4 linked regions of the Homo sapiens genome follow. The protein of the gene in region 2 interacts with the protein of the main gene of each other region in a biochemical or structural test. Each region holds a gene or a part of one and is shown on either strand. Other genes may lie near its edges. The genes, in order: SP3, ABCB1, FBXO21 and PIM1.

What was found.
Region 1: the proteins of ABCB1 (region 2) and SP3 form a complex in vitro, tested with the Homo sapiens proteins (one study listed by BioGRID).
Region 3: of the proteins of ABCB1 (region 2) and FBXO21, one has a biochemical effect on the other in vitro, tested with the Homo sapiens proteins (one study listed by BioGRID).
Region 4: the proteins of ABCB1 (region 2) and PIM1 form a complex in vitro, tested with the Homo sapiens proteins (one study listed by BioGRID).

The regions. Positions count from the first base shown.
Region 1 is NC_000002.12:173,900,263-173,906,388, reverse strand, and holds the end of SP3 (transcription factor Sp3), read left to right. Parts: 3' UTR 1-5,614; downstream 5,615-6,126. UniProt on the Homo sapiens protein: Transcriptional factor that can act as an activator or repressor depending on isoform and/or post-translational modifications. Binds to GT and GC boxes promoter elements. Competes with SP1 for the GC-box promoters.
Region 2 is NC_000007.14:87,597,870-87,605,821, reverse strand, and holds the start of ABCB1 (ATP-dependent translocase ABCB1), read left to right. Parts: upstream 1-4,937; 5' UTR 4,938-4,996; coding exon of another isoform or gene 4,997-5,067; intron 5,068-5,631; coding exon of another isoform or gene 5,632-5,637; coding exon 5,638-5,705; intron 5,706-7,952. UniProt on the Homo sapiens protein: Translocates drugs and phospholipids across the membrane. Catalyzes the flop of phospholipids from the cytoplasmic to the exoplasmic leaflet of the apical membrane.
Region 3 is NC_000012.12:117,152,463-117,159,489, forward strand, and holds part of FBXO21 (F-box only protein 21), read right to left. Parts: intron 5,623-7,027; coding exon of another isoform or gene 5,602-5,622; coding exon 5,411-5,601; intron 3,487-5,410; coding exon 3,329-3,486; intron 1-3,328. UniProt on the Homo sapiens protein: Substrate-recognition component of the SCF (SKP1-CUL1-F-box protein)-type E3 ubiquitin ligase complex.
Region 4 is NC_000006.12:37,166,232-37,173,178, reverse strand, and holds the start of PIM1 (serine/threonine-protein kinase pim-1), read right to left. Parts: upstream 3,028-6,947; 5' UTR 2,877-3,027; coding exon of another isoform or gene 2,604-2,876; coding exon 2,522-2,603; intron 2,407-2,521; coding exon 2,300-2,406; intron 2,199-2,299; coding exon 2,148-2,198; intron 2,055-2,147; coding exon 1,688-2,054; intron 184-1,687; coding exon 7-183; intron 1-6. UniProt on the Homo sapiens protein: Proto-oncogene with serine/threonine kinase activity involved in cell survival and cell proliferation and thus providing a selective advantage in tumorigenesis.

The sequences.
Region 1 (6,126 bases), on a different chromosome or scaffold from region 2:
GTACAAATTTGATATTTTTGTGAAATCACCTCATAATTTTATTTAGTGTTGAAGAAACAACATTGGCCCCTTGCCTTGTTCAGACAGATTTGCGTATAATGTAAATATATATATTAGTGGCAGAAACAAAGTACTGTAGAAACCTAGAAGAGGGAGAATTCTGCATGAAGTCTGGGAAACTCAGCAGAAATGGCGTTTGCAAAGGTACAGTGTGGTATGTTGGGTGATGGGGGACTTTGTGAGGGACAGAGTGGAAAAATTTTTAAGAGGGGCTGCCAAATTGCAAAAGAGAAGAATTTTTTTTGTCAGTGATTCCTAGTCTTTTTGGAATCCTACACCTTCTCCCCAGAAAAATTCATTCTAGTCCAGGGTTTATTGTTTGTTTTTTCCCTATATTTGACAGGGTCTGTCTCTGTCACACAGTGCAGTGGTGCAATCATGGCTTACTGCAGACTCCACTTACTGGTCTCAAGCAATCCTCCCCACTTCGGCCTCTTAAGTAGCTTGGACCACAGGTGCACACCACCATGCTCAGTTAATTTTAATTTGTTTTGTAGAGATGGGGTCTCACTATATTGCCTAGGCTGGTCTTGAATTCCTGGGCTCAAGTGATCCTTCCACCTCTGCCTCCCAAAGTGTTGGGATTATAGGCGTGAGCCACCACGCTTGGCCAAATCTGGAGTCTAAAGGGTATACAAGGTTTTTTTTTTTCCCATGTTGGCTTTTATTTGATGTTATAAAGTCTTCATGATATGAATATATTTTTTAAAAAGGTGTCATGTATATTGTCATGTAACATGATTCATGCCACTTCATTGTATTAAATACGTTTAAGATACAGTTTTTGATGTTAAGAATGATATCCTGAGAAGGCCTATCTCCTTCAGTCCTTTTCCCCATTTTTCACCTTTTAACTCTTGCTTCTGAATCTATGCTAAGCTACTTACTAGATGTGTGATATTGGTAGTTTTCTTACCTTAAAACCTCATTTTCATCATCCATGAAGAGGCTAACAATAGTACTCCCTGTTGATAGGATTGTTGTATTAAAATATAAGCATTCAGCATAGTGCCTGACTTAACGGTAGAGATTCAAATGGTAACCTCCTTCCAATGCCTTCCTCCCCCCTTAACTCTGGAGATTCCATTTTTCTGTAGTGAAGTGTTTTAGAATTTTCATTGTTTGACTATGGTTCATACATTGATTTTTCCAAAATGAGAAGAAGTCTTATTTCTAATGCAAAAATGTGAAAAGAACAGTTGGAACCTAAAGTGATAGTGGATGAAGTGTCTGAAGTGACTGCCCTATCAGAAAAGGATGGAATAAGAAGAAAAGACTGAAGCACCTAAATGTGTATTTTCTTGAGGAAATTACACCCCTGTGTAAGAGTCTATCCTATTTGAACATTTCTAAAAACCAGCCGAAGAATCTTCAGGTTCATTGCGACTGAAAGATAAAGTCTAGCACTGAAGTGGTTTTTAAGATTAGGAAAGGCCATCAGAGAAATGCAGTTATTTCTCCCCTCCATCCTTCCCCCACAAAAAAAAGTCTAAGCCTCCGATTAATCGACAACAACGAAATACAGGAAGTATTGGCTTAGTGACCTTTTAGGATATCTGTCCGACTTACATCCCTTCTCTGAGCATTACTTTCTGCCACCTTCCGTGAGGAGCTGTTCAGAAATCAGACAAGGAGTGGACATCTGGTCAAAGTTGAGCCAATTAGATGATTTCTCCTGAGAATTTGGAATTGGAAAACTGATGTCTTGGGAGGTCACATCTGGAACATACATGGGAGGCAGAGAAAGCAAAGATGACATTCAACCCCAGAAGAAAAAGAAAATGGCTTTCTTGATTCCTGATAACTTGGCAGTGTTTGTTCCAGTGTCTTGCATTTCACTATCTGCATTTCATCCTCCTGGGGTTCCACAAGATAGCCTTAAAACCTTACAGAGAGACTCCCCAACTTAGTTTTTTCTTAAGTCAGAAGGCTGTTACTTGCTACCAAATAATGCCAACTAAGACAACTGAGGTACAGTATATTCTCTCGTAAAACACCATAGAGTTGATGACTTGATCCTATAGAAAAGGGTCCCCAACCCCTGGGCCACAGACCGGTACTGGTCCCTGGTCTGTGAGGAACCACCTGGGCCACAGACTGGTCCTGGTCCCTGGTCTGTGAGGAACCAGGCCATACAGCAGGAGGTAAGCGAGCATTCCTGCCTGAGCTCTGCCTCCTGTCAGATGAGCCACAACATTAGATTCTCATAGGAGTGCGAACCCCGTTGTGAACCCCGCATGCGAGGGATCTAGGTAGTGCCCTCCTTAAGAGAATCTAATGTCTGATGATCTGAGGTAGAGCAGTTTCATCCTACAACCATCCCCACCCCCCGACCCCCATCCATGAAAAAATTGTCTTCCTCAAAACTAGTCCCTGGTGCCAAAAAGTTTGGGGACCGCCGTCCTAGGAAATACCAACAAAAAGTCACGTTTATTGCCTGCCAAGTGAGTCAGGTTTAGACAAGGCAGAACTTAGTATATAGCTTGGATGAATCAGAAAGGGTGGGCCTTGAAAGACTGGTAGAATGTGTCCAAGAAAACTGATTAAAAGCCTTAGAAGTCCCTCTACAGTTTCAGGACGCCCTCTTAACAGATGGCTGTATCTTTATCTGTGGTTGGTCTTGTGGAATACTGACTTTCTGCCAGCATTAGCCTGTGTTTCTATGTCACACCAAGTCACGTATATTTTCATTGTGTGTTAGGACTCAGAATAGGTTTGGGTCTTTCTTTTAATTATGTATACCCAATTACTTAGTCCTCCTCACACCCTGATCCTTTAAAAATTCTTAAGTTGTGTTAATTGCATTTTTCTCAATTCTACTCCTAGTAACTCTGTGTGTTTTTTTCCATCTTTATTCATTTAGTAAAGTTGAAACCTTTCATAGCATAATATAGTGATTAAGTGCATAGGTTTGGGACTTAGACACACATGGGCTTGCTTGTCTCCCAGTTCTGCCGCTTACCACCTATGTGACCTTTCACTCTTTACCTTTCCACTCTTAGCCTGTTCTCTAACTATAAAATGAGAATGATGCTAGCGTCATCTTCATAGAGTGATTATGGAGATAAATAAGTTAATGCATGTAAACCACTTTCCATAATGCCTGGCACATATTATATTATGTATTAGTAAATGTAAGCACTGGAAGAATCAGTAGTCTTCCTACACTTGAAAATAGTTGTCTTCAACTATTGTTGTATTAATGAGTTAATTCACCTTGTTAAGTCACCTTGATCCACCTAATTGTCAGCCAACATTTATTAACGAAACTGCTAGTATTCGTATTGTGCCTTTTTTATTATGAAACATTTCAAGAATACAGAAAAATGCAGAAAACAATGTAACAAATACCTAAGTATCTATCACCCAACTTTTATAGTCTTATTTTTACCTATATATTTTTTCTTTTAGAAAGGAATGATCACAGTTGTGCCTGAAATCTGTATAGCCCTGTCTCATTTCATTTGTCTCCCTTTACCCACATAAGTAATTGCAGCTCTGAATTTGATGTTTATCAGAATGATACCATGAGTGGTTTTATATCCTTATTATATGTATGCATACCTAGGATTGTTTTTCTGATTTTGAAACTTCATATAAATGGTATCATTCTGTACAAAACCTTCTGGGACTTGTTTTACCACTCATGTTTTTGAGATGTATCCACACTACCATCTTTCTCTAAATCATTCATTTAAATGCTGTAGTTCATTGAATAAGTTTATCACAATGTATCCATTTTCTTCTTGATGAGCATCTCAGTTATTTCCAATTTTTGACTTATAAACAATGCTGCAATGAAATAATTGACATATTTCCTTGTGTACATGTGAGCATTTCTTGAGATATGTATCTAGAACTTGAATCACTGGCCAACAGGATATTCTTAATCTTCAGTTTCACCAGATACTTCCAAATTGATCTCCATAACATGCATACCAAATTATATTCCTACCAGCCATTTATAGGAGTTCACATTTTTTCCATACCCTCCCAATCCTGCCTTGGCAGATATGTTTTTTCCAATGAATAACAATGAAATTTTGTTTTGGGATTTGACAAAATGATTCTAGATTCATCTGGAAGAAAAGCAAGTATAAGTAAGAAATTTAAAAGGGACCTGAAAAACTAAGCAATGGATATATTTAAAAATTGGTACCAGTAGGGATAACCAAATATTTGTTAACTGTAGCAGAAACAATGCATGTTTTTCTCACTGGTTCCACCTTCTATCTCTCAGTCAAGCCCTGCCCAGGTGTGGTAGTCCTCATAGTCTCTCACTGTAGGGGTCTTCTCACATAGTAGACCACTCTCTTGAGTTGAATATTGAAAAGAAGGCTTGGCCGGGGGCAGTGGCTCATGCCTGTGGTCCCAGCACTTTGGGAAGCTGAGTCGAGCGGATTGCTTGAGGTCAGCAGTTCGAGAGCAGCCTGACTAACATGGTGATGAAAAGTACAAAATTAGCTGGGGGTGGTGGCGCATGCCTGCAATCCCAGCTACTCGGGAGGCTGAGGCACGAGAATCGCTTGAACGCAGGAGGCATAGGTTGCAGTGAGCCGAGATTGCACCACTGCACTCCAGCCTGGGCGACAGAGCAAGATTTCGTCTCAAAAAAAAAAAAAAAAAAAAAAAAGGCTTAAGTCCAACTAACTGTTTCCCTGCTGTTCATTTTATCCAACGGCTGGGGATATAGGCTACTGCACATGATGGGTTGATGGATGTGAAATGATAACTCATGACTTTAATTCTAATTTTTCTATATTCTGGTGAGGTTGAGCATATTTTTACAAGTTCATAATCCATTTTCCTCTGATGGGAGTTGCCTGTTTGAATCCTTTGCCCACTTGCTTTTTGGGGTTATTTGCAATTTTTTGCATTGATCTTCAAACATTCTTAATTAATCCCAGGTACATATTATTTTATATATAAGATATATTTTAGAGATATATAGGCTGATAGTATCTTTTCTCAGTCTAAGGCTTATCTTTTAATTTTGTTTATGGTGTTTTGTGTGTGTTGTTTTGCAGAAGTTTTATTGTATCTGAATTGTGGCTTTTGTGTCTTAAGAAATTCTTTACCTACTGTCATAAAAATTTTTGTCTAAAAATTTTATGATTTTGCCTTTCTATTTATCTTGTTAATTCACTTTGAAATTACTTTTGTTTATGGCATAAAGTCCATTATTTTCCATATGGATAATCAGTTGTCTTAGCAGTTTATTGAATGGTCCAACGTTTCCCTGCTGATTATAATGCCCTCTCTGTTATTTATCCTAAATTCTTGACATCCGGTAAGGAAGTCTCCTCTGCCCACCCTTCTCTGTATTTCAAAATGGTTTTGACTGTTCTTGACCCCTTGCTCTTTCTGTGAACTTTAGGATTAAATGATTATGTAGAATTAAACAATCGGGTTAAGGTTTTTTATTAGAATTACATTGAATCTATAGATTAATTTGGGGAAAGAATGTTATCTTTCTATCCATGATAATTCTGTATCTCTCCATTAATTCAAGTCTTTAATGGTTTTTAAAAATAAATTATTGTCTCTTTGAAAATCCTTACACATCCTTTATTGCACTGATTCGTATGTAGTTTATGTTTTTGTTGTTGCTTTGGAGAATAGGCTTCTTAAAATTAAATGTTTAAATTGATCAATGCTGGAGTATATAAATGCTATTGATATTTGTAAAATGATTTTGTCTAATAATCTTACATAATTCTTTTGCTGTTCTAATAGTTTGCCTGTAGATCCTATACGATTTTCTGTGGAGACAGTCATATTGTCCTCAAAGAAGAAAATGTTTGTCTCTTCATTTCCAAGTCTTGTGCCTCTACTTTTAATCAACAGCTTAATGTTAAACAGAAGTGGTGGTGCCAGACATCTCTGTCCTGCTTCTGACTACTATTTACTTTTCTTTCTCACATGTAACTATAACATTATTCAGTTCTTATAACATGGTAAGATAGGTGGAATAGGCATTATCTCCATTTCTAGTTAAAGCTGAGTGGGCCAGAGTATCACTCCAAAACACACAGCTAGTAGATGTCAGAATATGTACTCCAGACT
Region 2 (7,952 bases):
AACACACATCAAATCTTACCTTATTTTCTTCTTACAAAAACCCTAGGAATATGCTGTTTTTGTCTTTATTTGAATGACACAGAAATCAAGGTTTTTGAGCAGTGGAGTATTTCTTCAAATGACACAGAAATCAAGTCTTTTGAGCAGTGGAGTATTTCTTCAAAGCCACACAGCTAGTAAGTCATGAAGCTGGAATTCCAAGAGTTGCCACTTCATTTTCTTCTTTCCCTTTATCTTACTCAGTTGTCTTCTCTCCTCTTAATTTTGTCATTCATTTAAAAACATTTCTTGTGCTATTATGGTAGATTTATTTTAATAGGGGGCAGTGACTTACTCAGAGAGATGATTCTCTAATGGAGTTTTAAAGATCTTAGAAGTTGATAGAGGAGGCTGGGCGTGGTGGCTCATGCCTATAATCCCAGCACTTTGGGAGGCTGAGGTGGGTGGATCACTTGAGGCCAGAAGTTCAAGATCAGCCTAGTCAATGTGGTGAAACCCCATTTCTACTAAAATTACAAAAATTAGCCTGGTGTGCTGGTGCACTCCCATAATCCCAGCTACTCAGGAGGCTGAGGCATGAGAATTGCTGGAACCCAGGAGGCGGAGGTTGCAGTGCGCCTGGATTATTAACACTACACTCCAGCCTGGGAGACAGAGTAATACTCCATCTCAATAAAAAGAAGTTGATAAGGGAGATAGTTCATGGCAACGGATCTTTGAAGGCACGCTAATGATAACTTAGGCATTTAGCCTACTAGTGTAATTTCCATAAATCTGCCTCTGATGTCATACTCTCAGCACCTAATATTTTCTACAAACATTTATTGAAACTTTATTTTGTATAAGTCTCTGTCCAGTTTGAATATTTAAAAAATTCATAATCATATGAAACATTAATAATAAATACAAAATGAGAGATGCCGATACTGAAAAGTAGGATTGCGGAGTGGTAGAAAATATTTCTGGCTGTAGTAGATGGGGAAGTGTTCAAAGAGGAGTATAATTCAGGTTTCCATTTGCCATCGACTTATCACATGGCTAACTCACTAAGCGACTTAATTAAAATTAAATTAATTTATCATCATCTGATCACCATTTCACACAACTCATGTCTGTTGCTGTATTGGCTAAATGATGGCAAGACAAACGACCTCTGAAAATGATCCTATTGACCTTCGGAATCTGGATTTTTTTTTCAATGCAGGTGTCCATAGAAGCAATCTGATGTAATCCAACATGAGTTCAAGCACAGTCATTTAATATCCCCTATCAAGTACAGTCATTTAATATCCCCTATCATCACATGTCCTTCATACATAAAAATCATTACATGTGAAAGGGTGGAGAGTGTGTGGATCCCTTATTATTGTGTTATTGTAACACAATAACAATATTGTGTTATTATTGTTAACACAAGTGAGTCATATGTCTTGCTCTTTGGACTGAGTGGAAACTTGTATTCTTTCTCTGCCTCAGGTCAATTAACTTCATTGAGGTGAGTTGCATTCCTTCTTTAAGCATGTTGAACCTTCAATCTGGACTCAGATGGGCTAAATAGAGGAGCTAGGAAAAATACAGAAAATAAATTATTAGAGAGATCAGAGAAAGATACATAAGATTTACAATAAAAGAATTATGAGAAAAACATCCAAAAGAATTAAAAACCATAGGAGAAGGAAAAATAGGTGAACAGCTTTTTAATTTCTATAAATGTGTTGTTAATACTCATAATAAAGGACTCAGAGCTGGGATATGAGAATAATAGGTCAAACGTATATGGATACATAGATGTGACTACATACATGAGTTGCAAAGAATGCTAAGGAGGGCAAAAAGAGATTGAGAAGAGGGCATTATTACTAATATATAGCAATGTTGAATGTTTAGGGTGTTTCAGGCACTGTACAAATCTTTTAAATACACAAATCACTTAATCTTGCCATAACATTAGAAGATACTATCTACTCTTTACCAAAAAGGTAACTGTGGGATAGCAGAGTTAAGTAACCCGTTCAAACCTATGCATAATAATCAGCAGAGATGGTCCTTATCTAAGTTTTTCTGCCTTTGAAGTCCAAATAGTTTAATGCAGCCAGGTACTAAAGAAGAAAACTTTTGTAAATTAGTTTAGTTTAATGATTTACATGTGGAAAAGCACAGAGTGAAAAGCACATATCATCTGAGAAGCCCAGTGAGTTTGGCTGAAATGGAGTGAACATGTACATGTTGAGGGTGAGGAAGATGATTAGAGAGAAGTGATGTGTTGTGGTTCTTAAAAGCTAAGAGGAAACTGTTAGATATGATATAGTCTGTGGCAGGGAGCCATTGCAGGTTTTCCAAGATGGACTCATAAGGAGAAAACACTTCGTGGGACTGGAAAAGGCAGTGAAGTGGTGTGTCCTATGATAATGTACTACAGTGTAGGATAGTGGTTAAGAGTACAGTTATGAGAGAGGGACTACTGGTTAGCACCTTACCTGCTGTGTGACTGGGCAAATAATGCAAACCTCAGTGTCTTTTATTGTAATATGGGAGTAACAAAAATAGTAACTACTTCATAGGATTCTTGTAAAGATTAAATGACTTAATTTCTTTGAAGTGCTTGGCAGTTCCTGATAAATGACCAGTAGTTAATAAATGTTAGTTGTTATTATTATCATTATATATTATTACTCCCATAGATACATATAGAACAGACTGCAGCAGAGAGGCAAATCTTTAATGTTGTCAGAGTATAGACAAGTTGGTGAAATGGCTACATGAGAGCGGAGGACAAGAAGGTGCAGATTGTGGCAGTCACTTCAAATGGAAATATCACCGCTTGAATGAAGGTATATGAGTGTCAACTTGCAAGGGGACCAGGTAGGTTTCATCAGAAATTAAGGAAGCTTAAGGAGAACAGCCAAGTTCAGCTTGACAGAAGTGGTGGTGGCACAAATGCAAGACTGGTGTCTTTCAAGAAACCAAGGACTGTTGAAAGTAGCAAGAGCTAGTTTGTTTTAGGTCCATCATGTTTTATATTCACACTTTCATGTCAGTGGAGCAAAGAAATGGAATACAATATAATAGAATGGTAGAATCTTATTTTTAAAATCTGTGTTATTCTGATCTTTAACTTACTTATATCTTTGATAGAGATCTTTACCTGATGCTCAAGATTGTAGAAATAGTATAATCAACATAACAGTATAGCACTGTATTTATATCCTGCACTGTTTAGGGAGGGTTTAAGGCCATTCAAAAGGATACATAAAATACAACAAGATTACATAAATGAAAGGTGAGATAAAGCAACAAAGCAAAACAAAAGTGAAAACAGAGATCATAGGCACAAATAAGATTAAAAACGCATGTAATGAAGATGAAAGCTTTTACATTTACCCCAGATGGACCACAGGGTTGTTGTTAAGCCTTTAAACAGTGAACAATGCTGTACACTTGCATATGCAATTAGAACATGTGGAAAAAATAGTGGCCTGTTAGAAGCCTAATTAACAATTTGTGAAAAAAAAAAAAAAAAAAAAAAAAAGAGGCCGAGCTGTAGCTCACGCCTGTAATCCCTGCACTTTGGGAGGCCGAGGCGGGCGGATCACGAGGTCAGGAGATCAAGACCATCCTGGCTAACACAGTGAAACCCAGTCTCTACGAAAAATACAAAAAATTAGCCGGGCGTGGTGGCGGGAGCCTGTAGTCCCAGCTACCTGGGAGGCTGAGGCAGGAGAATGGTGTGAACCCGGGAGGCGGAGCTTGCAGTGAGCCGAGATCCTGCCACTGCACTCCAGCCTGGGCGACAAAGCAAGACTCCGTCTCAAAAAAGAAAAAAGAAAGAAAAACAAAAGAAAACTTCATTGTATTGTAAGGCCAAGAACAAAATATATCAAGATAAGGAAAATTTGTAGTCAAGAATAGAAAAAAATTATGGCTTTGAAGTATGAGTTATTTAAAGAAAGTGGAAACATCCTCAGACTATGCAGTAAAAAACAAAGTGATTTTCTTCTTCTAAACTTATGCAATAAACTGATAGGTAATATGTGAAAGTCATAGAATGTAGACTAGAGGATACAACAAACCTATTTCCTCTATGTTCATAAGAAGTAAGAAAAGCTCTGATGTGAGTTAGCATTGCTTTACAATTTTGAATTGTGCAGATTGCACGTACTTTTCCTCAGTTTGAAGTAAATAGTGGACAGGAAAAAATATTAAATGTTGGCAGTAAATATGGAAGGAAATTACAACTAATGTAATATGCTAAAACATGCTATGTTTATTTTACTAATTTGAATTAAAATGTAAGAATTTAAAATGCCCTGGAAAAACACGGGCATTGATCTGACGTCTGAAGTTTTAAAATATTACACACTTTGAAATAGCATTTGTACCTTGAAATACCTGTCTCTATATATTTTTTAAAACTTCCTTTTTCTTTCATTCCATTTATCATCAAATAAAGGATGAACAGATGTAACTCAGAAACTGTCAAGCATGCTGAAGAAAGACCACTGCAGAAAAATTTCTCCTAGCCTTTTCAAAGGTGTTAGGAAGCAGAAAGGTGATACAGAATTGGAGAGGTCGGAGTTTTTGTATTAACTGTATTAAATGCGAATCCCGAGAAAATTTCCCTTAACTACGTCCTGTAGTTATATGGATATGAAGACTTATGTGAACTTTGAAAGACGTGTCTACATAAGTTGAAATGTCCCCAATGATTCAGCTGATGCGCGTTTCTCTACTTGCCCTTTCTAGAGAGGTGCAACGGAAGCCAGAACATTCCTCCTGGAAATTCAACCTGTTTCGCAGTTTCTCGAGGAATCAGCATTCAGTCAATCCGGGCCGGGAGCAGTCATCTGTGGTGAGGCTGATTGGCTGGGCAGGAACAGCGCCGGGGCGTGGGCTGAGCACAGCCGCTTCGCTCTCTTTGCCACAGGAAGCCTGAGCTCATTCGAGTAGCGGCTCTTCCAAGCTCAAAGAAGCAGAGGCCGCTGTTCGTTTCCTTTAGGTCTTTCCACTAAAGTCGGAGTATCTTCTTCCAAAATTTCACGTCTTGGTGGCCGTTCCAAGGAGCGCGAGGTAGGGGCACGCAAAGCTGGGAGCTACTATGGGACAGTTCCCAAGTGTCAGGCTTTCAGATTTCCTGAACTTGGTCTTCACGGGAGAAGGGCTTCTTGAGGCGTGGATAGTGTGAAGTCCTCTGGCAAGTCCATGGGGACCAAGTGGGGTTAGATCTAGACTCAGGAGCTCCTGGAGCAGCGCCCAAACCGTAGTGGCACTGGACCATGTTGCCCGGAGCGCGCACAGCCCGCGCGGTGCGGGGACCTGCTCTCTGAGCCCGCGGGCGGTGGGTGGGAGGAAGCATCGTCCGCGGCGACTGGAACCGGGAGGGAGAATCGCACTGGCGGCGGGCAAAGTCCAGAACGCGCTGCCAGACCCCCAACTCTGCCTTCGTGGAGATGCTGGAGACCCCGCGCACAGGAAAGCCCCTGCAGTGCCCATCGCGGCCAGAGCAGCTGGGGCATCAACGGCGGGCGCTCCCTCTTACTGCTCTCTGGCTTCGACGGGGGACTAGAGGTTAGTCTCACCTCCAGCGCGCCTGAGGCTCATGCATTTGGCTAATGAGCTGCGGTTTCTCTTCAGGTCGGAATGGATCTTGAAGGGGACCGCAATGGAGGAGCAAAGAAGAAGAACTTTTTTAAACTGAACAATAAAAGGTAACTAGCTTGTTTCATTTTCATAGTTTACATAGTTGCGAGATTTGAGTAATTTATTTCTAGCCTCCAGCTCTGAAATAAATGACATGTTGTTGTTTTTAATTATTTTTAAGAAACGCAAGCTAGCCTTTGGAATCAATATCCCTGCTTAGAGCAGAAGTTTGTTGGCTGAGTGGAGCACAGCATATGCATTTTCCCTGTCTTTTTTGTTCTTTCTTTTAATGATACATAATATTTTACATATTTATGAAATGGGGTACATGGAAGCGTTTTTTACATGCCCGGAATGTGTAATGATCAAGTCCGGGTATTTGAAGGATACATCACCTTAGGTATATTTCATTTCTATGTGTTGATAACATTTTAAGTCTTCTAGCTACTTTGAAATATACAATATATTGCTAACTGTAGTCACCCTCGTCTGCTATCGAACATTGGAACTTATTTGTCCTATCCAACCGTTCTTAGTCATTCACCAACCTCTTTTCATTTCACCTTTTTACCCTTCCCGGCCTCTTTCCCTTAGTCTTGGTGTGCCTCTTTCTCAGCTTTCCTGCCCCAGACAGGCGGATGCTCATATGTGTTTCTGTCTTATGAACTTCTGCTTTTCAAGTGGTGTTGGTCGCCCACACGTGAGCCATATGCTGCTGGTGATCTGCTCTGTGGTCCAGGCTCTTGCTTCCGGTAAATGGCTATGTAAACATCGCGTTTGTGGCCTGGCTGATGAGACAGAAGGTCAAAAGTACATTTAGGTTGTTAACTGGCAATAAATATCTGTATATAATATTGGTAATGTAATCATATAGGGAAAATAATTATTTAAAGTAAATTTTGATCATGGTGCTCTGCCTTTATAGAATATTTAAAACTTCACTAAATAGATTCATTGTTAGTAGTAAATTGTAAAATAGACTAGTAAGTTTAATAATATTAGAAACTGTAATGTAAATTATAAGATAAATTAGTAAACACATTAATATTATAAGAAACCAAGCTTTTCAGTGTAAGAGAAAAAATACAAATGTGGAAATCAAATACATTTTTAAAAATAATGTTAAGTTTGAATTAGAAATTTCAATATGAATTCATAATCTTTTAATAGTTCATTTTCAGTCCACTGAAAGGGACAGTAACAATGAGCACTGTTAGTACCAGATCTGGGTTTCTAAATACCATTCCTCCCTAAAAGAAATGAACCCCTCAGTAGCTAATTTCAGCCAGGTCTGGGACAGGAAAAATAGAAAGTGAGCCTGGAGTATCTTGTGGTACCTGAAAATAAGGAAGTGGAGTTTAATGGAGTAGTCGAAAGCACACTGAAGCTGTCTGGAAGATGCTTCCAATGGCCAACTCTGGGACAATTTGAGCATCAAAGAACATCGTAACTGTAACTGATTTTGAGATACTGAATGCTACTGCTGAATGCTTAATATTCTGAGAGAAGGGAAACTGAAAGAAAGTGTGAGAGGTAGAGAAAATAAAGCAATGATCTTTAGAGAAAAATTCCAGCTATCATTTTGGAACTTCCATTGTTATAATAGATTCAGGCAAGGATTGTCAATGAACTCTAAACTATCAGAAAAATGTTGTATCTAAGAATTTTCTTCAGAATGTTTACTAATTGGAAGGAGAATATGCTTCTCCAATTAAAGATTTTGCAGTTAGCACCTTAACCGAGTGATCAGACCTGGTATCTCTCACGGTAGAATGGACTGTAGTAAATGACTCATCACTTGGATTTTGAGTAAACAACATCACCTAGCAAATATTAATATATCTGCAAAAACATTTAGTCTGTATACAATTAAACTTGTAGACTGGGGCTGTCCAATGGATATATCATGTGAGCCACATTTGTAATTTAAAATTTTCTAGTAGCAACAGTAAAAAATGAAAATAAAAAGATAAAGTAATTTTGTAAATATATTTTATAGAACTCAATATGTCCAAAAGATTGGATTTTCTACATGTAATCAAAATGATTAATAAGATAGTTTACATTCTCTTTTATGCTAAATCTCCTGTTTGATGTGTATTTTACATTTATTGCACCTCCCATTTGTATTCAGTTTGATACAGGTATACCCAAGATGTGGGACATTCTGTAAGACAGCTGTTCTTGTTCCTTTACAAAAGTCAATGTTAAAAAAATAAAAGGAGGACTTCTAGATTAATAGAGACTAAAGAGATATAACTACCAAACGTAGTGTGTGAACATTACAAAACAAAACAAAAACAATCTAAAAGTTC
Region 3 (7,027 bases), on a different chromosome or scaffold from region 2:
AAAAAAAAAAAAAAATTTACAAGACAACCAGTCTGGATTCTTCAAAAAGTCAAAGTCATATGAAAAAGGGGGGAAAAAAAATGAAGAATGAGGAACTGTCTTTAATAAGAGAGACTAAAGAGAAAAAAAACAACCAAATGCAGTGAATGAATTCTGGTTGGATACTGATTTTAAGAAACAAGCCAAAAATAGGCATAAAGTTATTTTGTGACAATTGAGAAATTTGAAAACTATTAGATATTATAAAATAATTGTTACTAGGTGTGATAATGTAATTTGGTTATGCAGAGGAATCTCCTTATACTCAGACATAATTAGGTCATGTCTGCAATATTCTTTCAAATGGTGCAGGAAAACAGTAAAATCTCTATAGATAAAGCAAATATGGGAATCATTTACTGTTGAATTGACTAGAGGGTAAATGGGGGTATTTGATGTATTCTTTTAACTGTTCCACGTGCGAGCAAGAATGATGACTTCAAAGAAGATGAACGGAAGTGGGCTGGAGTATGTCAGGCGTGGGAACCGTGCTGGGGCTGTAAGGGGAAGGCCAGATCCCTAGGGCCTGGTAAAGCATTCTGCACTGCCTGCCGATGAGAAACTCCTGATGGTCAGTCAATTCAAGCAGCAAGTGGCCCGGTCCAGGGACACGCTAGGAAGATCCTCTTGCTGTTGCTAAGGAAAATGCCCGGTTGGGGACAGGCCGGGAGGCAGGTGCCAGTTAGGAAGTAGGCAAGCAGAGACCACCAGAATGGAAATGGGAGACACATGAGGAGACAGCAGTGGGTGTGTAGACAGATGTATCGCGAGGGCAAGGGGAGAAGAGCAAGACACGGCCCCCACGTGGTGTCACTAGTGAGATGGGGCAGGCAGGAGCAAGGGGGGTATGGGGGCACAATGAGTTCATGTTTTTTCTTTCTTTACAGAGATAATCGAGTTAAAACAATGGGTTCAGTGAGTCGGGGTAACAATGTTGGAGAGAAGACCCCTGAGAGCCCTCCAAGCACACATGCCCGGGGGCTGTTACAGAGGTGGGCACGGAGCCCAGAGAAGAGCCCAGAGAACACGGCTTTGGGAGTCACCAGCACATCCACAGACACCCCAAGGGGGAAGGAGATGAAGGCCTAGAGGAGAGTCCCCTGGAGAGGGAGGACCCTGAAGACAGCCACGTATCAGGCATGCTGGGGGAGATCTGCCCCTTGGCCCAGGACTCCGAGTCCCTCAGGAAGCGCTTGCTGACACAGCGCTGATGGAGCCGCCGGCAGAAGACGGGAACTCTCATAGTGTAGGAACAGCTTTGAAGTTCTACGTTTTAAATTCAAGAAGCCAATTTGCTAACATTACCCATCATTTAGTTCCATCTCAATTTAACAGATGGTAAAACCAACAAGCAGATATTAATTTTTTCAGTAATGACAATTTTATGACTAAACCTTACATTGCATGTTTACCTAGATATGATTAGAGATCAACTTCTGAAGTGAACATATCACAACCCCTAAAACCAAATACTTAAGACCAACCCTAAACAGTGAATAATGATGCCATGTGGTAAAGCCATAGACACTGGCCCACGGTGTTGTTGAAAAGAAAATGCTCATTTATTCTTGTGAACGCCATTTGTTGTAGGCTATCAAGCGTTTACCAGGTGACTTGTGCTGGCACCAGTGGCCCAGTGAATCAGTCAATAATGTCCAAATCATGTGTTGATTTTTAGAGATTGTTTATATTCGACACAGCTTCAAAAGTTAAATAACATTACCGTTGGTGCCTCCATCTGCCACAGGGAGCACAGAAACCCCTTACACCATCCCCATCACACTGAGACAGGGCAAGCGACCTGCAGTTTCAACAAACATTTATCTTGATGCTGCTGTTCCAGGGGATCCTTTCAGTTTCTGATTAACTGACAATAATCATTATTTTCCAGCCTTTTATTTTAAGATGAGGTCTCACTCTGTCACCCAGACTGGAGTGCAGCAACACAATCAGAGCACACTGTAGCCTTCACTTCCCAGGCTCAAGTGATCCTCCCAACCCAGCTTCCTGAATAGCTGGGACCACAGGTGTACACTACTCTGCCTGGCTAATTTTTAAATTTTTTTGTAGAGATGGGGTCTTGCTGTGTTGTAGCTGGGAACACAGGTGCACATGACTCTGCCTGGTTAATTTTTAAATTGCAGAGATGAGGTCTTGCTGTGTTGCCCAGGCTGGTCTCCAACTCCTGAGCTCAAGCAATCCTCCTGCCTCACCCTCTCGAAGTGCTGGGATTATAGGTGTGAGACACCTCACCTGGCAATCTCCAGCCTTTCAGAAAGTTCTGAGGTTTTTATACATCCCATATTTTGATTATTGGATTTATCAGAACATAATATTGAGTTAGGTCAAAACTCAGACATGAGCAGGTACAGCATGATGGATGAAGAGGAGGCTCTGTCAAGCTGCCTGGCTTCAAATCGTGTTCTCTAAGTTAAAATCTCAATGGCTTCCCTGTGCCTCAGTTTCCTCACCTAGAAAATGATGATGATGATGTTTCTCAAATGGAGTTAATATACATTAGAATGATGTCCGTCACAGAATGGCACTACATTAGCATTCACATTCATTTTTATTAATAAATGTGAATTATTAATTAATCAATGTGAATGCTTTGACAGACATACACTGAATTCATCCTATTAAGTAGAGGTGAAATTCAACAGGAACAAAGAGAAGGGAGACTCACACTGAAGGCATTCTTGTCTCTTACCAGCTTCCACAGGCTCTGTCAGTCTCCACCTCAGCCTTGCCCTGGGCTGGCACCTGCCGGGGCGGCAGTGGCCCAGACGCCTACCCAACCTTACTGTACACTTGCGGGCTCTCAGGTGCTCCCAGGGCCGGCGCAGTGGGCTGCAGTTCCCACAGGTGGCCACACGAGGGCATCTCCGGCGTCAGCCGGCAGCCACAGCCTTGGGAGGCCAGGGAGCACTAGGGGGCCCCCAGGTGTTCATCCGGTTCCCTTCTAGTCTGGGAGGAGCCGAGGGCAGGGTCCAGGAGGCAGGACTTACAGGAATTTGATTGGCATAGACAGTGGCCAATCAGATGTCCGGGCTGTGGGAGCGGAGGCCCTGGGGGAGGGCGGGTATGACTACTGACCCCTCGCCAGGGCGGCACCTGTGCAGACCCAGCCACGTTTAGCTGACTGTGGGCCCGAAGGAGGCCGGCCATGGGGCGTCGGCCGCCTCTGAAGGAACCGATGGCCCACGCCCACAGTACCTACCCGAGGGCTCAAACGTGCGCTGAAAACACGCCCGCGGGGCCACTGGCACAAGCGGAACCCGCCGCTTACCTTGGGCTGCGTATCGACAGGAGCCGTCCTCCACCAGCACGTTATAGAAAGGCTGGTGGTGGCCGTGCGGCAGGCTGTGGACGTTCATGTTCCGGATCCACTCGTGTCCCATCATGCAGGTGGGGTCCCAGCCGTAGATCACACAGTTATAGCCATACCTAGTTAACACAGGAGGAGCAGTCAGTCCCTGCAGACCCGGCCGCAACAACCTCCAGACAACCGCGTGGCTTCTCAGCTCACATCCTCAGTTACCTGCTTTACTCCACGGTGAATCATTTTTCAGGACACCCCTAACCCCTTTTATAAACACCTCTTATTATCAACATAGCACTTTATCTGGAAAAGAATAAACTTTTCAACAAAAAGTGATTAGATGACAACTGGTTACCCAAAAGAAAAAGGTATGGGGACCTGGCCTGACAACAGCACACCAAATTCAATTCTCAGTACAGCAAAGACTCAGGTGTTAAATGCAGAACTTCTAAAATAGAAAGTATCTTCATGACTCAAGATAGGGAAGGTTTGTTAAAACAAGGCACTAAAAATACAGCCGTAAAGGAAAAGACTAACCAATCTGACATCACTAAAACCAAGAGACTAACAAATCCTGATCCAAACATGTAAAAATATGAGACAACTGGGGAAATAGGAACTCTCATTAGATACTGCATGAAGTTAAGGAACTGGGGTTTTCTAGATGTGATAATAAGATGTTAAATATGAAAAGACAGAGAAGGAGAGAGCACCCCTGCCTTTTAGAGGTACATACTGAAATCGCTACAGGTGAAATGGCATCTGGCACTTGCGTCAATTAACCCAGGGAGGAAGGTCTGGAGGGTGCAGGGGACAGTAAGATTCACCCCGTATGGCAGCTGTTGAGGCTGGATGACAGGAACACCACCTGGTTCCTTATAGTCCTTTCTCTCTTATAAATCTTTGCAAATTTCCATTTAAAAGTTTAAAAAAATGCAATAAAGAATGAAAACCACCAGCCAAAAACTGGGAAAAGATATTTGCAACTTATCGTCATGTAGATACTGATACACAGAAGAACAACTACATATCATATTAGGGAGGACTAATAACTCAATAGAAAAAAATACACGAAATGGGCTGGGTGTGGTGGCTCACGCCTGTAATCCTAGTACTTTGGGAGCCTGAGACGGCAGATCACTTGAGGTCAGGAGTTAGTGACGTGCCTGGCCAACATGGTGAAACCCTGTCTTTACTAAAACACAAAAAATTAGCCAGGCGTGGTGGTGTGCGCCTGTAGTCCCAGCTACCTGGGAGGCTGAGGCATGAGAGTCGCTTGAACTGGGAGGCAGAGGTTGCAGGTGAGCTGAGATACAACACTGCACTCCAGCCTGGGCAACAGACCCAGACTGTCTCCAAAGAAAAAAAAAAAAAGAAAAAAAGAAAAGAAAAATGAAATGTTTGAATAGGCGCTTAATAAAAGGAAATTTGGAACTTGGATAGCCAGTAAATATATGAAAAGAACCTTAACGTGTTTAGTAACCCAGGAAACAGAAATTAAAACCACAGTGAAACACTATTTGCCCTTTCTCAGGTAAGTACACTTTTAAAGGTCTGGCAATAGCACCAGGCGAGAATAGGAACTCCAGGCTCCCAGCCTGCTGGTGGGATGTAAACTGCTCCAATCACTTTGGATACAGTTTAATTTTGCCTGGTAAATAGACCAAGTGCCTATCGGATTTGAAGAGACTGAGATTAAGTGACAAGATATAAGAACAATGAGGAAATGAGAGAAAAAACTCGTGTCTTACAAAGTTACTTCCATGTTCTCACACACAGAGAAGGGTCAAACATCTAAAGGCCACTAAAAACACTAGAAGATCTCTCAGGAAAGTAAGCTGCTGCTTAAAAAACACAAAGGTCAAAGACACGGTTCAAAAAGAAAAAAAAAGAGGTTCAGCTTTCTGTCTTCCCCGCGGTGCGCACTCGGGGGATAAGTGATCCAGTCAGCTCCTCCTCCACTGTGTCCTGGGGGCTCACCAGGTGCATGTGTGTCTCTGCAGCCCCTCTGGAACGGACACTGCAGGACAGATGATCCCGGGCACTCACCTCTTATGCTTCATAATGAGCCCGATGGAGTAGCAGACATCTCTGTGCTTCTCATCGGAGCGCAGCTTCACCTCTACGCCCACCTCCTCCTTTTTGCGCTCAATGTGCTCTAGAGTGTGCTGCACCAGGTAGCCCACCGCCCCGTGCTGCCCCGGGTCTAGGGTTTGGATGTGCTGGAGGATGTCAAGCACCTTCAAAACAAGACAGAAAGACTAAAAGATAATATTTTCAGCTAGGCCTTTTCTTTTTTGCGGCGAGGGATTTAGACCTACCTACGTAACCTAACAAAGCAAAGGACCAAAAGGGGTGGCTATGCCCTGATCGAACCGGTCCAGGTCTCTGGACCATCCTCTGATGGACCGCCACCAAATCGGCACTGCAGATGCCCAGGGTTGGGCTCTACTGTAACACTGGCAGCTGGCCCAGGATACCCCAATTCAACCAGTGTCAACCTGAGGAGTTCTTTGGAAACCAGTGTGCTGGGATAAGCGCTGGGGACGCAGGTGAGGGCCCACCACCTAGGGCACTCTGGATGAGGTGGGCTCTAACAGCACCTAGCATGCTTGGTCGGCATGGGAAATGTGAGAATCCACGTTTTTTCAATACACAGGAATGATTTTCACTTGCCACTCACGAATTCAGAGGGGAAAAAAAAATGCTAAATTGCTTTAATCGAGACGAAGAGGATGTCTGACACAACTGCCTCAGTGCTGGAAAAGATGGAAAAGGTCACAGAGTGGGCACCAAAGGGATGCATTCGTTGAGTTTATGAAGCTACACTAGAAGGAGGGAGCCACGTATATCAGAGTTCTAAAATCCTGCTGGTCACTTCAGTGGTCTTAACTCATCATGGTATTTGGTATTCAGCAGGCAGCAGGAGAAACTACATCTATGCAGAGGTTAAACTAGTAGCACAGAGTAGCAGCCCTGTCTGACTCCACTATTACCGCCTCTACTGCACACAGTGCCTCTGTGGAAAAAACTCCACGTTTAAAAAGACACAGACATACAATTATTTCGCACCCATTACGTTTACAGCCCTTAGCATAGAATTTCTGACAAGGTTCTCCTTCCAATTTACTGAGTCCTGGATTACAGCCTGCTTAGTGCGTTACAGCAACCTGGACTCTAGGCCCAGATCGGTCAGACTAGCTGGCGTTTTTACCTCTGAATTCCTTTCTTAGCTTATCAAATCATGAGTAATCACTGTCCTATTTGCTGATGCATTGTGAGCCTGTCAAAGTATTGTGAAAACTCCAGTTTTATGCACCATGTTATTATCTTGCCTTTCAGACTGCGACGTGCTGGACCTCAACATTTACTGAACACTATTCTCTGCTGGTCACTGTGCCAAGTCCATCAGGTTTTTTGTTTCACTTAATCCTTCCCATTTGAAGGTCAGTAATTTCTTGATCTTCAAATTGGGAGGATTAGGTGGAAAAAAAAAAAAAGCTTTTAATCACTGCCACTTCCCGAACAGGACTCAGGCTTAGTGAAGTGACTTTCCCGGGGTCACAGGGTTGTGGAGAGGTGGAGTGAGGCTGTGGCTCTGGGTGTGAAGATCAACTCTTGGTCTCAACCAGTGTCATATCCTAGCAAGAGCAGGAGCATTTTAAA
Region 4 (6,947 bases), on a different chromosome or scaffold from region 2:
AGTTACCTGAAGAGACCCTCTGCCTGAAGAAAACCTGGCCCCTGATGATCTCTTCGTCATGCTCGAAAGGAATATCTCCACACACCATATCATACAGCAGGATCCCCAGGGACCAGACTGCCGCCGACCTGCCATGGTAGCGATGGTAGCGGATCCACTCTGGAGGGCTATACACTCGGGTCCCTGTGAGCCAAGGGAATAGAAGAGAAAACACACTTTTAGCAAAAACAAGCACAAAGAAGCTGGGTGGTATATATAACTCTTTCTTTTAAAAAAAAAAAAAATCCCTTCTCTCAGGAGCTAGGTGAACTCCATTTTTCCCTCTGGGCTAAGGAGAGTGGAGGCGCACCTTACGGCATCTCTCCAACCCAAAGCATTACCCACCTCTCTGCTAGCCCAAACCATAAACTGAAATTCTTTATGAACTGCTCCAAGAAACAAACACAGCTGGCCGCAGACCCAAAACTTGAGGCCCTGTGAGGCAGGACCGCCTGCGAAGGATGAAGGGATGCATGTCTGCACAACCAAGAAAGGTATCTCATAGACTATCCTTAAATTGCATTCACCACTGCCCAGGAGCCCGGGTGAGATTCTCATGGCCGACAGGATCCAAGCAAGGATGCTTGCACAACATCCTAAGTCAGGGTGCCCTTTGGGAGGCCTTCCTCCCCACCCGATGCAAGCAGGAGCAGACACCCACACCCTTTCCTCCCTAGACTGGAAAGGTAGACAGAGCTGCAGGGTTGGTTTCAGACCACGTGATTCCTGTTTACAAACTTTGGGTAGTAAAAGAAAAAGGAGGGGCCATGCCGCTGGTGCTCACCAGGGGGCAGCAAAGACTTGAAAGAAAAAACATGGGAGGACCCGGCCAGCCATTAACTGTTAAATACAAAAAATGCAGCCCAACCCAGCGTCCTCCAAGGGCAAATAAACATAAACCACAAGCCCGAGTCACAAGTTTTGAAAGGCTGTCGTTTGTTAGGTTAAGCCGCTCAGATGATGACCCACCCTCCGCAGCTTTGATCTCAGGCTCTCCATTCCTTCTTTTCTGAAAGAACCCGCTCCAAGCCCCTCCCTAGGATAGGTTTTCATCCTCTCTGCGGAGACACCCAACTAATTTTCAAACCAGCGACAGATCTTATTTCACAACATTCATTCCTGACTCTCTCTCCCCTTAACACTAAAGAAAAAAAAAAGCCACCAGTAATAATATAGTTCCTATTCCTTAACCTTCCCTAGATCAGAAAGGAGTTAAGAACTGCAGCTCTAAAACTACCATACAGAAAACTAACTCCCTTATAAAATAAAACAAAAATTACAAAACCGGCATCAATTTCCACCTCTTCCCCCGCCCCCATCCTTTTACTGGCGGGGAAACTGGGTCAGACTTTAGAAAAATCTGGGCTACCGCCGGTTGCCCACAACCTCTTATTCATCGGGAAAGCCTGGAACTAACTGAATTCCACTTGAAGAATAAAATCATGCCAGAAACATTACAGGTTCAGCTGGCTGAAAATCCCCGGCTTTACTACGCTGGGAGGCTCTCCTGCGTCCCACCCCGGCTAGCATCGAGCCAGGCGGCCCAATGACCTTTACAAAAGGCTGGCGCGGGAGACTGGCCGAGGCCTCCGGACTGGGCCGGGCCGGGCCGAGTCACCTGGGCAGCTCCCTCCCGGGCCTGGCTCACCATCGAAGTCCGTGTAGACGGTGTCCTTGAGCAGCGCCCCCGACCCGAAGTCGATGAGCTTGAGCTCGCCGCGATTGAGGTCGATAAGGATGTTTTCGTCCTTGATGTCGCGGTGGAGCACCCCGCAGTTGTGGCAGTGCCGCACGGCCTCCAGCACCTGCCAGAAGAAGCTGCGGGCCAGCTCCTCTTGCAGGGCTCCCCTTTCCGTGATGAAGTCGAAGAGATCTTGCACCGGCTCGGGCCTCTCCAGGATCAGGACGAAACTGTCGGGCCTCTCGAACCAGTCCAGGAGCCTAATGACGCCGGAGAAACCCGAGCTCACCTTCTTCAGCAGGACCACTTCCATGGGCACTCGAGTGCCATTAGGCTGCAGGGGCGAGGGGGCCGCGTTAGGGCGGGAGTCGGGGGCGCCCCTCACCCCACCCACTCATCCTGGGGGTCGCTCCTGCAGGGCACTCACCAGCTCTCCCCAGTCGGAAATCCGGTCCTTCTCCACGTGTTTGATGGCCACCTGGAAGCCCAGGGTCTCCGTCAGGTTCCCTCGTCCGGGCTAAAGCACGCCCGTGCGCCCCCCGCCCGGCGCGCCCTCCCCACCGCGGGGCGCCCACTCACCGGCAAGTTGTCGGAGACGCGGATGCCTGAGTAGACCGAGCCGAAGCCGCCGCTGCCCAGTAGCGGGCCCACCTGGTACTGCGACTCCAGGGGCTCCTTCTCCTTGCCTAGGAAAGGGGGAAGCACGGGGACTCAGTGCCGGCCCGCGAGCCGCCAGCTCCCCACCCAGGAGATCCCGCCGCCGCCCCGCATCCCCGGGCCGGAGGCGGGGGGTGCTCTCACCGGGCGCCAGCTTGGTGGCGTGCAGGTCGTTGCAGGGCGCGGCGCGCAGGTGGGCAAGCGAGTTGATTTTGGACAAGAGCATCCCAACCTCCAGGATGTCGGCGCAGGGACGGTGCCCAGAGGAGCTGCCGCAGGAGCCGGAGCCGGGGCTGTGCCGAAGGCTATGCCTGGGGCTGTGGCTGTGGCTGTGGCTGCGGGTGGCGTTGCGGCTGTGGCTGCGGCTGGCGCGGAAGGCCGAGGGCGAGTCGGAGGACAACTGAGGGCGCTGCCGGGACTGGCGGCGGGAGGGCGCGCCAGCGGGGTCGGGCAGCGCTGAGAACGGCGGGGTGAGCGGCTCGTGGGGCTCGTGCGGCAGCGCCGCGGGGCAGGAGGCTAGTGGTTGCTGCTGCTGCTGCTGCTGCTGCTGCTGCCGGTCCCGCCGCCGCCGCTGCCACCGACTCCTCTCGGGCCTCCTCAGCCACCGCGGCCGCTGCAGCAGACGCCCGGCTCGCCCCGCAGCCAGGAGTAAAGGGGAGGAGCGCGCCGGCGGGGAGGGCGCGCGGGGAGGGCGCGGCGGGCGGGGACGGGGCGGGGCCTCTCCGGGAGGCCAAGGCGGGGAGCAGGGCTGCCGGGCCGGCCGAGGGAGGAGAGGGGGTGGGGAAGCGGCGGGACTGGGCGACTCCCCTCGGCCCCCGCCCCGCGCGCTCTGTGGCCGCGCCCCGGCCCCGCCCCTGCCAGCGCTACTCCAGCCAACCAGAGGCCGATTGATCTGCATAACTCGGCGCGCCCCGCCCCCGCCCCGCCCAGCTCTCGCGGTCAGAATGGTCTCTACGCCGCCACGACGTGGCGGGAAGGAAAAGGCGCCAAAATGGAGGGGGAGGGGCGCGGGGCGTGAGGGGAGGCGGGAGCTGGGTGTAGGGCCGCGAGGGAGGAAGGATGGGGAGGGGCGTATCGATTCAAACCCAAACAATAACAAAGCCATCAAAGGCCGCCCGAGGCCGGCTCTGCGGCTCTCCGTTTCGCTGAGGGTTTTGGGTCAAGGGCTCGAGCCGGAGCATAACAAGTTGCGCGGAGACGACGGGCGTTAGTGTGTCAGGCGGGGAGGCCGGCGCGCCGGGTGTCGGACTGTGTGTGGGGATGCCGACGAGGGTGGTCTTTCTGTGTGACTCAGACCCGAGACCTCCAAGTCGGCTGGGGCGGGCTGACGTCGCGCTGTAGGCTGGGGGCGGATTCTGGGGGTTTGTGTGTTGGGGGGCGCGTCGGGGGCGAAGGATCCGCAGGACATGAGTCACGGAGGGAGTGGAGGAGTCAGGCCTGGAACAGAACTGGAGGCGGGAGCCCCGCTCCTGCGGGAAAGGGATGCAGCCCTCAGTCGTTCCGGCCGGCTAAAAGCTCAGCCACGGGATTCCCATTTTAGAAATGCAAAAGCACCAGCGAATCCTGATTTCTGGGAAGGGATGTGTGTCAAAGGGCCGGGTAAAGAGGAAATCACGAAGCAAATGTTAGTGTTGTGATGCCAGATGCTGCCTCAGCCCCTTCTGTGAGGGCGGAAAATTCCTCATCTAAAACGAGGGTGGGAGGGTGCGCTTGATTTAACCAGTTTTCACGTTGTAGTCACCTTTTCATCAGCCTGTTATTACCAGGCAGGCAATACCAGCAATTATTGGCCAACCCCAAGTCTTGTCTCAAAGGAAACCCCCCACCCTCTGCCTCCCTTGGAAATAACCCGGAACACTGACCAATTCCACTTGCATCCTTTGTCCTTTTAAACTTCATGTAGAGTTGATAACGACGTGTGAAATGAGTAAATTAAAATACTATATAATCCATAAATTGAATTGTCAGTGGCCTAAGTAATTGAAAGCTAACTACATTCTATTTTAATTTTTTGAAGTGCCTGCCATTTAAAGGAAAAATCAGGATCCCTATAGCTGTCATTAGTGAATTTAAATGTTTCCTTTGAAAGTTTTCTACAGTGCTTGCTTTATAAAAGTGCCCAGATCCTCCACAACTTTTATGAATTTATCCTACAAAATATTACATATTTTCCTTTTGTTTGTGTACTGTGGCCGAACTCATTCATTTTTTATGACTAGGAGAAAACCCAAGGGAACAAGAATTACTCCCTTTTTGCAGATAGGAAAATGAAACATAAATAGGATGGCACAGGGTCATACAGCAGCTAAGAGAGGAGATGAAATGACCCAAATTCACCTCCTGAGTATTCAAAGCTTTCCGCTTATCAGGGTCTAAAACTGTCCTTGGCACCGAACAAGACATCATTAAACATATGTGATTCCCACTTCCATCCCTTCTACCCTCCCTTTCCTTTCTCAAACCCTCAAATGTAGTCAAACAGAACTATTCCCACTTGTTCCCACTCGCCTAGCACTTTACAGACCCTTTGCCTTTGCGGAAGCAATCAACCTGTCCTGGGAGAGCCCTCTCTACCTCTCCACTTTTATTCAAAGCCTTTCCACTCTTTAGGAAACAATTGTAGTTCTACCACAGATTGATGAACAAACTCAGAGCATTGGTTCACTGTCCACTAATCTGACAGTTGGGATTTGTTTTTTTAAATCCTTTTTGTTCATTTACTTTTCCATTATACTTTGTCTTCCTATTCCTTGAATGCCCTTTTTTTTTTTTTTTTTGAGACGGAATCTCGCCCTGTTACCCAGGCTAGAGTGCAATGGCACTATCTCGGCTCACTGCAACCTCCATCTCCCGGGTTCAAACAATTGGTTCTCCTGCCTCAGCCTCCCAAGTAGCTGGGATTACAAGCGCCCGCCACCATGCCCAGCTAATTTTTGTATTTTTAGTAGAGACGGAGTTTCACCATGTTGGCCAGGCTGGTCTCGAACTCCTGACCTTATGATCCGCCTGCCTCGGCCTCCCAAAGTGCTGGGATTACAGGTGTGAACCACCATGCCCAGCCTCCTTGGATTACAGGTGTGAGCCACCATGCCCAGCCTCCCTGAATGCATACTTTATCCAACATTTGTTGATAAAAGAGAAGACTATAATGGATTCTAACAAAAAGGCCATAATTAAAGTCAATTTATACCAAATTTAAATGAATTAAGTGGGCTTCGGGAACATAAAAGTTGGGAGCAAGGGCTTTAAACTAAGTTAGCCTGGTTTCAATTCCGGGATCTGGCAGCTACTAGTTAGGCATTGGTCAAGTTACTTAACCTTATTAAGCTTTAGACAGAATGGAGATAATAACAGCATCTACCTCATAGGGTTGTTGTAAGGAGCAAATAAAACTCTTGTTTGTAAAGCATATAACCCAGTACAGAGTAAACTTCTAATAAATATTAGCAATGATGATGGCAATAATGTTGATCGTGGTTATGATGATGATGTTTTTTAAAACGGCCTTTTTTTTTTTTTTTTTTTTTTTGAGACGGAGTCTCGCTCTGTCTCCCAGGCTGGAGTACAGTGGCGCAATCTTGGCTCACTGCAAGCTCTGCCTCCCAGGTTCACGCCATTCTCCTGCCTCAGCCTCCCGAGTAGCTGGGACTACAGGCGCCTGCCACCACGCCTGGCTAATTTTTTATATTTTTAGTAGAGACGGGGTTTCACCGTGTTAGCCATGGTGGTCCCGATCTCCTGACCTTGTGATCCACCTGCCTTGGCCTCCCAGAGTGCTGGGATTACAGGCGTGAGCCACCGCGCCCAGCCCAAACGGTCTTACACCTAGAAGGTACCAAAGGTAAACTACTGGATTAATAGTTCGATTTTTAACCATTTGGGGAGAGATGTGATTTAAAATAGTTGTTTCTAGTAGATCTTTTAGGCCTTTTAGAAAAAAAAATATGTATCAACTTCAACCTTTTTCACTTTTTCTAGGTCTTTGAAGGACTAAATATTTAATTAGAGCTAAAGTGATTAACATTTAATATATCTACTTTGTATAGTGGGGGCTTCACAGCTGGAAGTTACAAAACATGGACCTTGCTTGGCAAACAGCTTTGATTTACTTAAAACTGCTTTAAAAGATAATTAGTAAACATTCAGATGTGTTGTGGGTCAAAAGTTACTCCTCGAGAGTAGGGAACTTGATGTTTTGATTTATCGAAATATAGTCTTAATAAAATTAGCACTATTTGTGCTATCTCAAAGAATCTAACAAAGAATCAGAAAAATCACCCTAATAATTAAATGACAAGTGCTTTTGGAAGGATAAAAGGCCACAATTATGCTAACAGTTCTCTGGGAAGAGGAGCATTTATTAATATTAATTTGAACAATATCCAAATTAATCCTTAGGTGGTTTTCATATTCTGCCTGATATGGGTTTAATCAAGTCATTGTCAAAGGAATGACTTCATCCAGGGACTATATGCTTATGCAAAAAAAAAAAACAAAAAAACAATGACTTCAGCAAGTTCTGTAGTCACGAAATTTTTTTAAAAAACAAGTTTAGAAGAAAGTTTGAAAG